Linked DNA regions of Homo sapiens. The protein of the gene in region 3 purifies or fractionates together with the protein of the main gene of each other region. This does not show direct contact. Each region holds a gene or a part of one and is shown on either strand. Other genes may lie near its edges.

What was found.
Region 1: the proteins of ESPL1 (region 3) and PPP2R1B purify together in Homo sapiens (co-immunoprecipitation; one study listed by IntAct). This does not show direct contact.
Region 2: the proteins of ESPL1 (region 3) and NHSL2 purify together in Homo sapiens (co-immunoprecipitation; one large-scale study listed by IntAct). This does not show direct contact.

The regions. Positions count from the first base shown.
Region 1 is NC_000011.10:111,749,294-111,752,944, forward strand, and holds part of PPP2R1B (serine/threonine-protein phosphatase 2A 65 kDa regulatory subunit A beta isoform), read right to left. Parts: intron 3,040-3,651; coding exon 2,866-3,039; intron 1-2,865. UniProt on the Homo sapiens protein: The PR65 subunit of protein phosphatase 2A serves as a scaffolding molecule to coordinate the assembly of the catalytic subunit and a variable regulatory B subunit.
Region 2 is NC_000023.11:71,913,731-71,917,381, reverse strand, and holds part of NHSL2 (NHS-like protein 2), read right to left. Parts: intron 1-3,651.
Region 3 is NC_000012.12:53,271,160-53,274,810, forward strand, and holds part of ESPL1 (separin), read left to right. Parts: intron 1-1,561; coding exon 1,562-1,698; intron 1,699-3,651. UniProt on the Homo sapiens protein: Caspase-like protease, which plays a central role in the chromosome segregation by cleaving the SCC1/RAD21 subunit of the cohesin complex at the onset of anaphase. During most of the cell cycle, it is inactivated by different mechanisms.

The DNA.
Region 1 (3,651 bases), on a different chromosome or scaffold from region 3:
TTGTTGTCGAGACGGAATCTCTCTCTGTCGCCCAGGCTGGAGTACAGTGGTGCAATGTCAGCTCACTACAACCTCCGCCTCCTGGGTTCAAGCAATTCTCCTGCCTCAGCCTCCCAAGAAGCCTCCCAAGTAACAGGCACCCACCACCACACCCGGCTAAATTTTTTGTATAGTAGAGATGGGGTTTCACCATGTTGGTCAGGCTGGGCTCAAACTCCTGACCTCAGGTGATCCACCCACCTAGGCCTCCCAAAGTGCTGGGATTACAAGCGTGAGCCACTACGCCTGGCCTATTTTCCGGTTTTTGTAGTTTAACTTTACACTTACTTAACATCGTCCACAAGCCAGGTCATACATAAAGTCTTGAGAGAATTTTATAAAATGACTATCTGATATAAAAATATTTAGATATGAAGAGAAATTAAGGAGAATATATATACTAACAAGAAGTTAAAATTGTAAAGCAAAATGTTCATGACTGAGGCATGTCACCCCTGCCAGACAGGTGTAAGTCAGCCAAAGACACCATCTGCCTTGCTTTCACACTGCTCTCTATAGAGCTAGCAACCCTGGGAAACTTTCCAGGTCTAGAAGGAGCAGAGGTTAAAAGAAATGGTACTAAAATGCACCCTCCCTTCCAGATAGTTTTGGTCTTCAGCAAATCAGTTAATCACTGCTCCTCTCCACTCTGAAAAGTAGATCCATGACAATCACCAGTGAAGAGAAGATGACCCATAGCACTTGGGAGTGACAGACAAAAAGGATGACAAAATAACTTCACCTGATCCCATTTGCCATGCACTAATACCTCTGGTATACTTTTCAAAGAATCGGACACTTTCAATTTTATAAAACATATAATGCCACAGACATCCACAAATTGCATGTTCATAAACTAAATGTACTAAAATTAAAAATACAAATTCAGGGGTTCAAGACAAGAAAAAATAAATTCCATATGTTGTGACCTGAAAGGAATGGAAGTGGGAGTGAGGAAGGGGAAACAAACTGTAGCGATGTCAATAGTAAACTGACACATCTTTCTCAAAAAATACTCAACAATCAACAAATGTTGGCTATACACAGTGGCTCATGCCTATTATCAGCTACTCAGGAGGCCGAGGCAGGAGGATCATTTGAGGCCATGAGTTCAAGACCAGCCTGGGCAACAGCAAGACCCTGCCCCCAAAATAAAAAATGTTAAGTGCCTAATTAATGACGGGCACTATGGTAGGGACTGGAAATAAAATACAGTCCCTGCCCTAAAAGAGATCACCCATCTCTCCAACTAGACTGTAACAGACAATTACAATACTCTGTAATAAGTGCTACCAACAGAGATGAAGGTACATCAAACTTAGAACTGTCTAGGCCACCTACTCAAAAAAAGGAAAGGATGTGGCTATAAAACCCAGCTTTGAAATTTTAACTAACATGGTATTAGTTAGGGTAACACTGATCACGAAACTCAAACAGTAACAGATAATGTGATAATGTGGACTTTGACCAAAATACTAACATTACAAGCTTCAGTTTTTGTTTTTGTTTTGTTTTTTTTTTTTTGACACAAAGTTTTACTCTGTTGCCCAGGCTGCAGTGCAGTAGTGCAATCTTGGCTCACTGCAGCCTTCGCCTCCTGGGTTCAAGCGATTCTCCTGCCTCAGCCTCCCGAGTAGCTGGTATTACAGGTGTGCACCTCCGTGCCCAGCTAATTTTTGTATTTTTAGTAGAGATGGGGTTTCACCATGTTGGCCAGGCTGGTCTGGAACTCCTAGCCTCAAGTGATTCGCCTGCCTCTGGCTCCCAAAGTGCTGGGTTTACAGGTGTCAGCCACTGTGCCCGGCCTTTCAATACTTCTTTTCTATATGGTGATTCCTCAACTCCCTTTAATCAGAATGTAGGGCAAGTGGTACCTAGGGACATTTTGCTTAGAATACAAGGCAAACAGGGAAGTTTCCTTGAGCAAAAATCACAGCAGACTTACCCTAAAACCATAATCCCTTTTCTTCTCAGTTAAACATTTCTTAAGTCACAAAGGCATTAAATATTATAAAATTTACATTATATATACCAAGAAACTGATTATTCTATGGCTTTGTTTTTCGGTGGTGATGAGGTGAAATATGTTTCTGTAATACAGATTAAGCATCCCAAATCCAAAAATCCAAAATGTGAAATGCTCCAAAATCCAAAACTTTTTGAGCACTGATATGATGCTCAAAGGAAATGCTCATTGGAGCATTCTGGACTTTGCATTTTTGAATTTGGGCTGCTCAACCAGTAAATATTTATAATGCAAATATTCCAAAATCCACTTCTGGTCCCAAACATGCTGGTCCCAAGCGTATTTAGATGAGGGATACTCAACCTATACCTTTTTGTTAGAAATGTATGCACTAATAGGCCAGATGCAGTGGCTCACGCCTGGAATCCCAGCACTTTGGGAGGCTGAGGCGGGTGAATCACCTGAGGTCAGGAATTCAAGACCAGCCTGACCAACATGGTAAAACCCCATCTCTATTAAAAATACAAAATTAGCTGGGTGTGGTGGCATATTCCTGTAATCCCAGCTACTTGGGAGGCTGAGACAGGAGAATCGCTTAAACCCAGGAGGTGGAGGTTGCAGTGAGCCAAGATTGCATCATTGCACTCCAGCCTGGGCAACAACAGTGAAACTCCATCTTAAAAGAAAAGAAACGTATGCACTAACAAACATAAAAACCATCCTATAGGTAACAAGAACAAGGCCATACTTTCATGCATCTAAACAAACATAAGCATACAGGCTACTAGGCCTCCTACTTGCCATGGTAAATTGTCACTATCTGACACTACCCTGCAGTTCATGGAGCAACACATACTCACCAGCTGGCCTGCCAGCAGCGGCATATACTCAATGATGGCCAGGCGGACCCTCCATTTGGCATCTTCTGCCAGCTCCACTATGGCAGGAAGGAGAGACTGAGAGAGCTGACGGATTCCAATCACTTCATTTACACAATCCAAATTGGAGATGATATTCAAACGAACGTCAGGACACTGCAAGTACACAAGCCCCAAAAGACCACATTTAAAAATCAAGTACTCTGCCCAACAGTCTCCTGTCAGGGTAAGATAAAAGGTGAGGTAAGACTCAGGTGAAAAAAAAATGGATAATCTTGAAGAAATAATAGTGAATACATAAATAACTCAAGGAACATAAATGATCTTAATCAGAAATTTCAATTAAAAGTCCGTAATACTAAAGACTACAAGAAAAGTCCGTAAGATGGTAAAGAGCATAATCTCTGGAACTAAATCAGATGCACTCAAATTTCAGATCTGTCATTGTTGAAAGACCTTGCTCAAGTTACTTTAACCCTCTATGCCTCAGCTTTCTCATCTGTAAAATGGGATAATTGGCCGGGTGCGGTGGCTCACACCTGTAATCCCAGCACTTTGGGAGGCCGAGACGGGCAGATCACGAGGTCAGGAGATCGAGACCACAGTGAAACCCCGTCTCTACTAAAAATACAAAAAATTAGCTGGGTGCTGTGGCAGGCGCCTGTAGTCCCAGCTACTCAGGAGGCTGAGGCAAGAGAATGGCATCAACTCAGGAGGCGGAGCTTGCAGTGAGCAGAGATTGCGCCACTGCACTCCAGCCTGGGCGAC
Region 2 (3,651 bases), on a different chromosome or scaffold from region 3:
CAGATAAAGACTACTACCCTCAAGGAGCTTATATCTTATTGAGGAGCTTACATTTTAGAAAGAGAGGGAGGGAGGAAGGGAATGGAAGGGAGGAAAGGAGGGAGGGAGGGAGGGAGGGAGGGGGGAGGGAGAGAGGAAGGGAGGGAGGAAGAGCTGCCTAATTGCTCAAACCTCCCAAGTTAACTGGCTGATACCTAGTGGTCTTGTGCATGACCTCATACAAAGCACTTTACTGCAAACTACCTGTACACTTAATAAACATACCTCCTGTTTGTGGCATTATTAAAGTAGTCTTGACTGTTAAGATTGCCATCCTGTGCCCTCTAACTTGAAAACTTCAATGAGGGCTTATTTGAGTGAAATTGTGGAGTTCCACAGAGCAGGGGAGAGCTGATAGCTTGAACCAGGAAGGCCAGCGATTCCCAACTGACAGTAGAGGACTCTAGAGGACCATAGAGTTATCACAAGAAGTCTGTTAGTTTGCAGATCCACCAAGCATTGTCTATGGACTGAATAAGCACTACTCTTCATATGCATGAAGATAACATTATAGTGTTTAAAACTGCAAATTCATTTAAAAGCATTGCTAAATTCACAATAACACTAACAGAATGACAGATTGGTTTTTATTTTTGTTTTTACCATAGGGAATTCTAAAAGTCCAAATTCCATCTTTGGACGCCAAACCGGACTGAGCAGAAGAATCTTCTGGTATGTGAACTAGGGTCCTGGTTCTGGTTATCAGCTCTCCTCCACCTAAATAAGACCTGATTCCCAGGCACCACATGCTGATGTGGTCAGGAATGAGATGGCACCTACCTCTGCAGCTTGGCAGCTCCTCGAATGGAGACATTGGGTCTTATTCACCTCTGGGTCTTTAGCACCCAGCACAAAGGTCAGACAGGGTCCAGACGCAGTTGTGCCCACTTTTCGAGGCTAGAAAATAATGATCTAAGGAAAAGACGATTTGAGGCCTTCAGAAAGGGAATACAGCAGCAAAGCCAGTGAGCCTGTTAAGCTACTTGAGCACTGAAGGATAAGAAATCCATACCCTGTAAATGTGTATGCTAAATGCACTTTTGGTAATAATGTTACTTTCTTGTTCCCATTGGTTTTTAATAAAAGGTGCCTTCTGAAATGCCAACCAGCCTCTACTAGAATAACAGAAAATAGTCAGGATGCAGGTGTGTGGCAAGTAGTGTCTACAACTGGATTGAAAGCTACAAGGGAGAAGAACAGGTATAAAGATGGCAGAGGGATCAGGAGGGATTGCAACAGTGTCAGGGTCACTGGCCAGCCACCCCTTCCCACCTGAAGATCCTTTTTCTGGAGCAATTTTCCATTCAAAGAAGACTATGTTTTGCTTTAACAAGAGAGCCTGTTGCCTCACACCTATTCTCTATATTCTCTATATGAGAAAGTTTGACCTTCCTTTCTCCTCTCCAGCTTCAGCTCACCCCCGGCCACAACTACAGAACCACAGGGTGCCCTCAGTTACTAAAGGTAACAGGAGTTATTTCTCATCCTGGACAAGTTCCAACTAGAGAAAATGCCAAGAAAATGACTCTCGAAGAACAACTGACTTTGAACTTAGCATCACTGCAGAGGGCAGAGCACTAGTCTGGTTGTCAGAAGGCATGGCTTCTAGGTGGAGGCCTCCTGTCACTGACCTGCTGTGTGACCCAGCCGGTACCACATTCCCAAATCAGCAGATTAAATACATGATTAGGCCACCAACAGCAGGGGTACAAAAGACAGAGAGGAAGGGAGAAAGAATCTAGTAAGATATTTTAATTTCAACATCCATGTGAGCTTTGAGCCATTTAAAAAGAGTAACATTTTTGTTTAAAGGTTTAGTATTGCTTTCACTTGGAATTACATATGGGGAGGCACTAAAATCTTTTCAGCACTCATGACTACTGAAGGTCTTGATCCAGCTGGGTGCCTTTGGACAGGTACCTTCCCCTTTCTGGGTCCGGGATGTCAAGTGTTATGACACATATGGTGGTTAATGACTGAATTGTTGGTACCACACCAGAGAGGTACAGGAACAGATGATGTAAATATACCACTCTCCTCCTAAAACCTAATCAATGTCGTCAAGGTCAAGGTTGAGCCCAAGAGCCATAACTTGAATCTTCTCCTATTACTCTACTATTCCAACATCCTGACACTTTTATCACTTTAGCTATTCATGTGTCTTAAAAAAGAGAAGATTAAATGTCTTGTTTCTAAAGTGGAAGAAATTCTAGTGGACATTTTGGTATCCAAATCTCCAGGGAAGATGTTTTCAACACATGGAAATACCATGAAGCAGACCAGGAATTTCATGGTATTTAAAAAGAAAATGGAAAGCAGGGTGGGGTGGGAAGAGAAAAGAAAATGGGTTTGCTTCTCCCTCCATACTCTGTCAACCCTCTGTCCCAAGAGCCTCGGGATGAAACGTACCACAGAGACAAAGTAAGCCCTGGCTGAGTGCCTGTTCCAAGTCCCCAAATTCCTGCCACCCTCCCCACTCCATCTGACTCAAGAGGCCATCTCTTCTCTTCATTAGCAAGGACGGTCAGACTCAGGGTCCACAACACCTCATCTAATGGCAAACTCATTGCAGTCTGGAGGTGCTTTTTTCATTTTTTCATCTCCGTATAGATTTACAACAGTCTATCCTCACACTGGAATTATGATTTAAACACAAATAAACCAGCTGTCCTTTCTGATTTGGAGCCAGAGTTGCCATAAAGTTGGAAAATCAAGAAGTAGGAATTTTACATAAAGATGAAGAGGGAGTTTTCACCACGGACCCAACTGGCTGTATTCAAGCCAAAATAATTGTAAGAAGCAACAGAACATCTTTCCCACAGCAAGTTCATGAGCTAGTGTAACATGATAGTTTTCCAGTGTTATTAAACATACCTAGAATTATCTAGCCCTTCAGTGACTTCCTTGATGGCAAAGGAGATATTATATCCCTACGCGGATGGCCTGATTGCTTTTGTAATTATCATCTAAGCACCTACAAACATTATATAGATCTCCAAGGGAGAAGTTGGAAAGCTTAGATTGACTCAGCATATGGTGGCAGGCATGGAGCTATTTCCCAATGGCTTTGACTACACCATTTTTTAGATGAAGAACCCAGTGTACAGGCCACAGATGCCATAAAACAGGACACATTCAAAACCAGATGTGGGGAAAACCTCAACTTATAGGCAGGGCCATGCCTAGGGTGTGGCAACTGCCACAGATCCACAACCACAGGGGCCTTCGGCAGTCCTGTGGTCTACCGTCTCCTCCTTCCATCCCCATCTCCCACACCATACCAGTTACAAGAGCTTTTAGGGCAGTCTCAAAGGGGTTCATGTTACCAAAGAACAGCCTTCAGTGGAGTGGGTGGGATGTTGCGAGGCAACTAGCCTAGCCCAGTCCACCCCTGTAACCTTGAAGATGGTGGGGGCATGACCCATGATTGTGATTGTGTAGAGAAGCACCTTCAACTTCTTCAGCATCCACTTTCTCCTCCTCTATCTCGCTCCTCCTCTCTCTGTCCTCCCCTGCTGCTTCTCAGGGCCCCAGCCCAGCCTGCAGGCTATAGGCCAGTCTGACTTGCCACTACTCAGTCAGTGGCAGCCAAGTTGTCACTGCAGGGAGGCT
Region 3 (3,651 bases):
GTATATTTAAGTGTTTTTTTTTTTTTTTTTTTGAGACAAGGTCTTGCTCTGTCACCTAGGCTGGAGTGCACTGGCACAATCACGGCTCAACACAGTCTCAACCTCCCAGGCTCAAGCGATCCTCCCACCTCAGCCCCGCAACGAGCTCACCTTGCAGGTTCAAGCGACTCTCCTGCCTCAGCCTCCCAAGTAGCTGGGACTGCAGGCGCGCACCACTATGCCTGGCTAATTTTTGTATTTTTTGTAGAGATGATGTCTGGCCATATTGTCCAGGCTGGTCTTGAACTCCTGGACTCGAGTGATCTGCCCACCTTGGCTTCCCTGAAACCCTGTCTCTACTAAAAATAGAAAACTAGCCAGGCAAGGTGGTGCATGCCTGTAATCCCAGCTACTTGGTAGGCTGAGGCAGGAGAGTCGCTTGAACCTGCAAGGTGGAGGTTGCAGTGAGCCAAGATTGCACCACTGCACTCCAGCCTGGGCAAGAGGGCACTCCAGCCTGGGCAACAAGAGCGAAACTCCATCTCAAAAAAAAAGGAGAATTCTTCCCACAGAGTACTGAAGACTGACTTTATTTTCTCCCAGTCATCTATGTTGATGGCCAAGAAGCTGCATAAATAAGTTATTATCATTTATTCAGCAAATATTTGTTGCCGGGCGCAGTGGCTCACGCCTGTAATCCCAGCACTTTGGGAGGCCGAGGCGGGCGGATAACGAGGTCAGGAGATCGAGACCATCCTGGCTAACAGTGAAACCCCGTCTCTACTAAAAATACAAAAAATTAGCCGGGCGTGGTGGCAGGCGCCTGTACTCCCAGCTACTCAGGAGGCTGAGGCAGGAGAATGGTGTGAACCCGGGAGGTGGAGCTTGCAGTGAGCCAAGATCGTGCCACTGCTCTCCAGTCTGAGCGACAGAGCAAGACTCTGTCTCAAAAAAAAAAAAAAAAAATTTGTTGAGTACTCACTGTGTGCAACGCACTATTTGGAGTACTTGGATGTGTCGGTAAGCAAAACAAAGTTTCCTTCCCTCATGGAGCCACGTTCTAGTTTGGGGGGAAAAGATAAACAGATTCAGTAAATAAGTGAATTATCAACATATTAGAACGTGATAAGAAATGTGGGGGAAAGGAAAAGTAGAGCAGGATAAGAAAGGGAATTGGGAGTCTAAGGTGCATGACGGGGGGCAAGTTACCACCTTAAATCAGGTGGTCAGGGTAGACCTCATTGAGAGGGTGACATGAGCAAAGGCTTGGAGGATGTGAGGGAGTCAGCCATGTGGGTTCCTGGAAAAGAACATCCCTGGCAGAAGAAACAGCCAGTGCTGAGGCAGGAGGGGGTCTCGTTTGTAAAATGAGTGCAGATGGGCTGAGTGGTGTGAAGGGCATGGGCCTATTTGGGGCAGGAAGGGGAGAGCCGCCCCTTCCCCATTCCTAGCAGTAGGGGTTCCTGTCTGATCTGGAAGCTGCTGAACTGACCACAGATCCAGCTGATCTCTGCTGCCTCTCCAGGAGGAGAGGGTGGTGGGAGCCTTTCCTATGGTCAATTGTGCCTTTTCTCCCCTGCAGCTTCTTACACCAGTAATTTGGCCTACAGCTTCTATAGTCACAAGCTCTATGCCGAGGCCTGTGCCATCTCTGAGCCGCTCTGTCAGCACCTGGGTTTGGTGAAGCCAGGCACTTATCCCGAGGTGCCTCCTGAGAAGGTACAAGGGAATGAGAGATGCAGGAAAGGAGCTTATGTGGTTGGGGAGCGGGGGGAGCGGGGAAGGGCCTCACCAGCACCCTGCCTTGGAGTGGGAGGTTAATAGCAGCATGTTGACACCAGTATCTGGAGCAGTGTTTCCCAAACCTCACTGTACTGTTACTTACTGTTGACTCATTTTTTTTTTTTTTTTTTTTTGAGACGAGTCTCGCTCTGTCGCCCAGGCTGGAGTGCAGTGGCACAATCTTGGCTCACTGCAACCTTTGCCTCAGCAAAGGTTCAAGCAATTCTCCTGCCTCAGCCTCCCAAGTAGCTGGGATTACAGGTGCCCACCACCACGCCCAGCTAATTTTTGTATTTTTTGTAGAGACGGGGTTTCACCATTTTGGTTGGCCAGGCTGGTCTCAAACTCCAGACCTCAGGTGATCCGCCTGCCTCAGCCTCCCAAAGTGCTGGGATTACAGGTGTGAGCCACCGCAGCCGGCCTGACTCACTTTTTATATTTAGCCTGGTCCTAAGCTACTGGTTTCCAGCCAAGCTGCACATTAGAATCACCTGAGTGACCTTTAAGAAAATTCTAATGTCTGCCCCGAGTTAATTGCATCAGAATCTCTAGTGTTTGCCGGGCGTGATGGCTCACGCCTATAATTCCAGCACTTTGGGAGGCTGAGGCAGGTGGATCACCTGAGGTCTGGAGTTTGAGACCAGCCTGTCCAACATGGTGAAACCCCGTCTCTACTGAAAATACAAACATTAGCCAGGCGTGGTGGCATGTGCCTGTAATCCCAGCTACTTTGGAGGCTGAGGCAGGAGAATTGCCTGAACCCAGGAGGTGGAGTTTGCAGTGAGCCGAGATTGTGCTACTGTACTCCAGCCTGGGCTACAGAGCAAGACTCCATCTCACATCTGAATATTTTCAAAGATCCCCCAGGTGGTCCTTTGAGCAAGGAGAGTGAGAACCTGGGTTCTTGGTTTTTTGGTTTTTTTTTTTTTTTTTTTTTTTTTTTTTTGGAGACTGAGTCTTGCTCTTGCTTTGTCACCCAGGCTGGAGTGCAGTGGCACGATCTCGGCTCACTGCAACCTCCACCTCCTGGGTTCAAGCAATTCTCTGCCTCAGCCTCCTGAGTAGCTGGGATTATAGGCATGCGCCACCATGCCTGGCTAATTTTTGTATTTTTAGTAGAGACGGGGGTTTCATCATCTTGGCCGGGCTGGTCTTGAACTCCTGACCTCATGATCCACCCGCCTCGGCCTCCCAAAGTGCTGGGATTACCGGCGCAAGCCACCGCGCTGGGCAAGAACCAGTGTTCTTAAGCAAGAATACCTGTGAACTGATGCATTGGCGGGATTGGCAAGCAAGATGAGTCATAGAGGGGCTTGGGTTTCATCTTAACTGAGATGATAAGCCTCTAAAGGATTTAAGTGGAGGCATGACAGCAGACAGGCATTTTGGATTTCCCTGACTTCGCTGTGATGAATGGAGTGCAGGAGAAAAGACCGGGTAATCAGGCTGCTATAGTATTCTAGGCAGGGAAGGGTGGGCTGAACTGAAGCAGCTGCACGAGGGATGGAATGCAGTGGATCGGTGCGAGAAGCCAAGGATTAACCTGGTAGGTGACTGGCGGGAGGGAGAGCGAGAGAAGGGAACATCAGAGATGGCCCCACATTTCTTACTCAGGAGAAGGCAGTGCCATTTGCTGAGAAGGATTACAGGAGAAGCAGGTTTTCAAGGGTGTGGATGATGAACATAGGGGTGGAGTGGATTGCAGCCTCTGAGTTGAAGGCACTCAGAGTATTTCATTCTTAGGTGTCTCCTGCCTTGGGTGGGTGTGGCTCAGGAGGCCCACCTGCCAACCCCGCCCCCTCATGTGGTGTATGTACCTATTGCATGCATATCCCCTTCCACCATACACACTCACTGGTTCCTCTCCAGTTTGGTCTGTTCCCTTTCTCT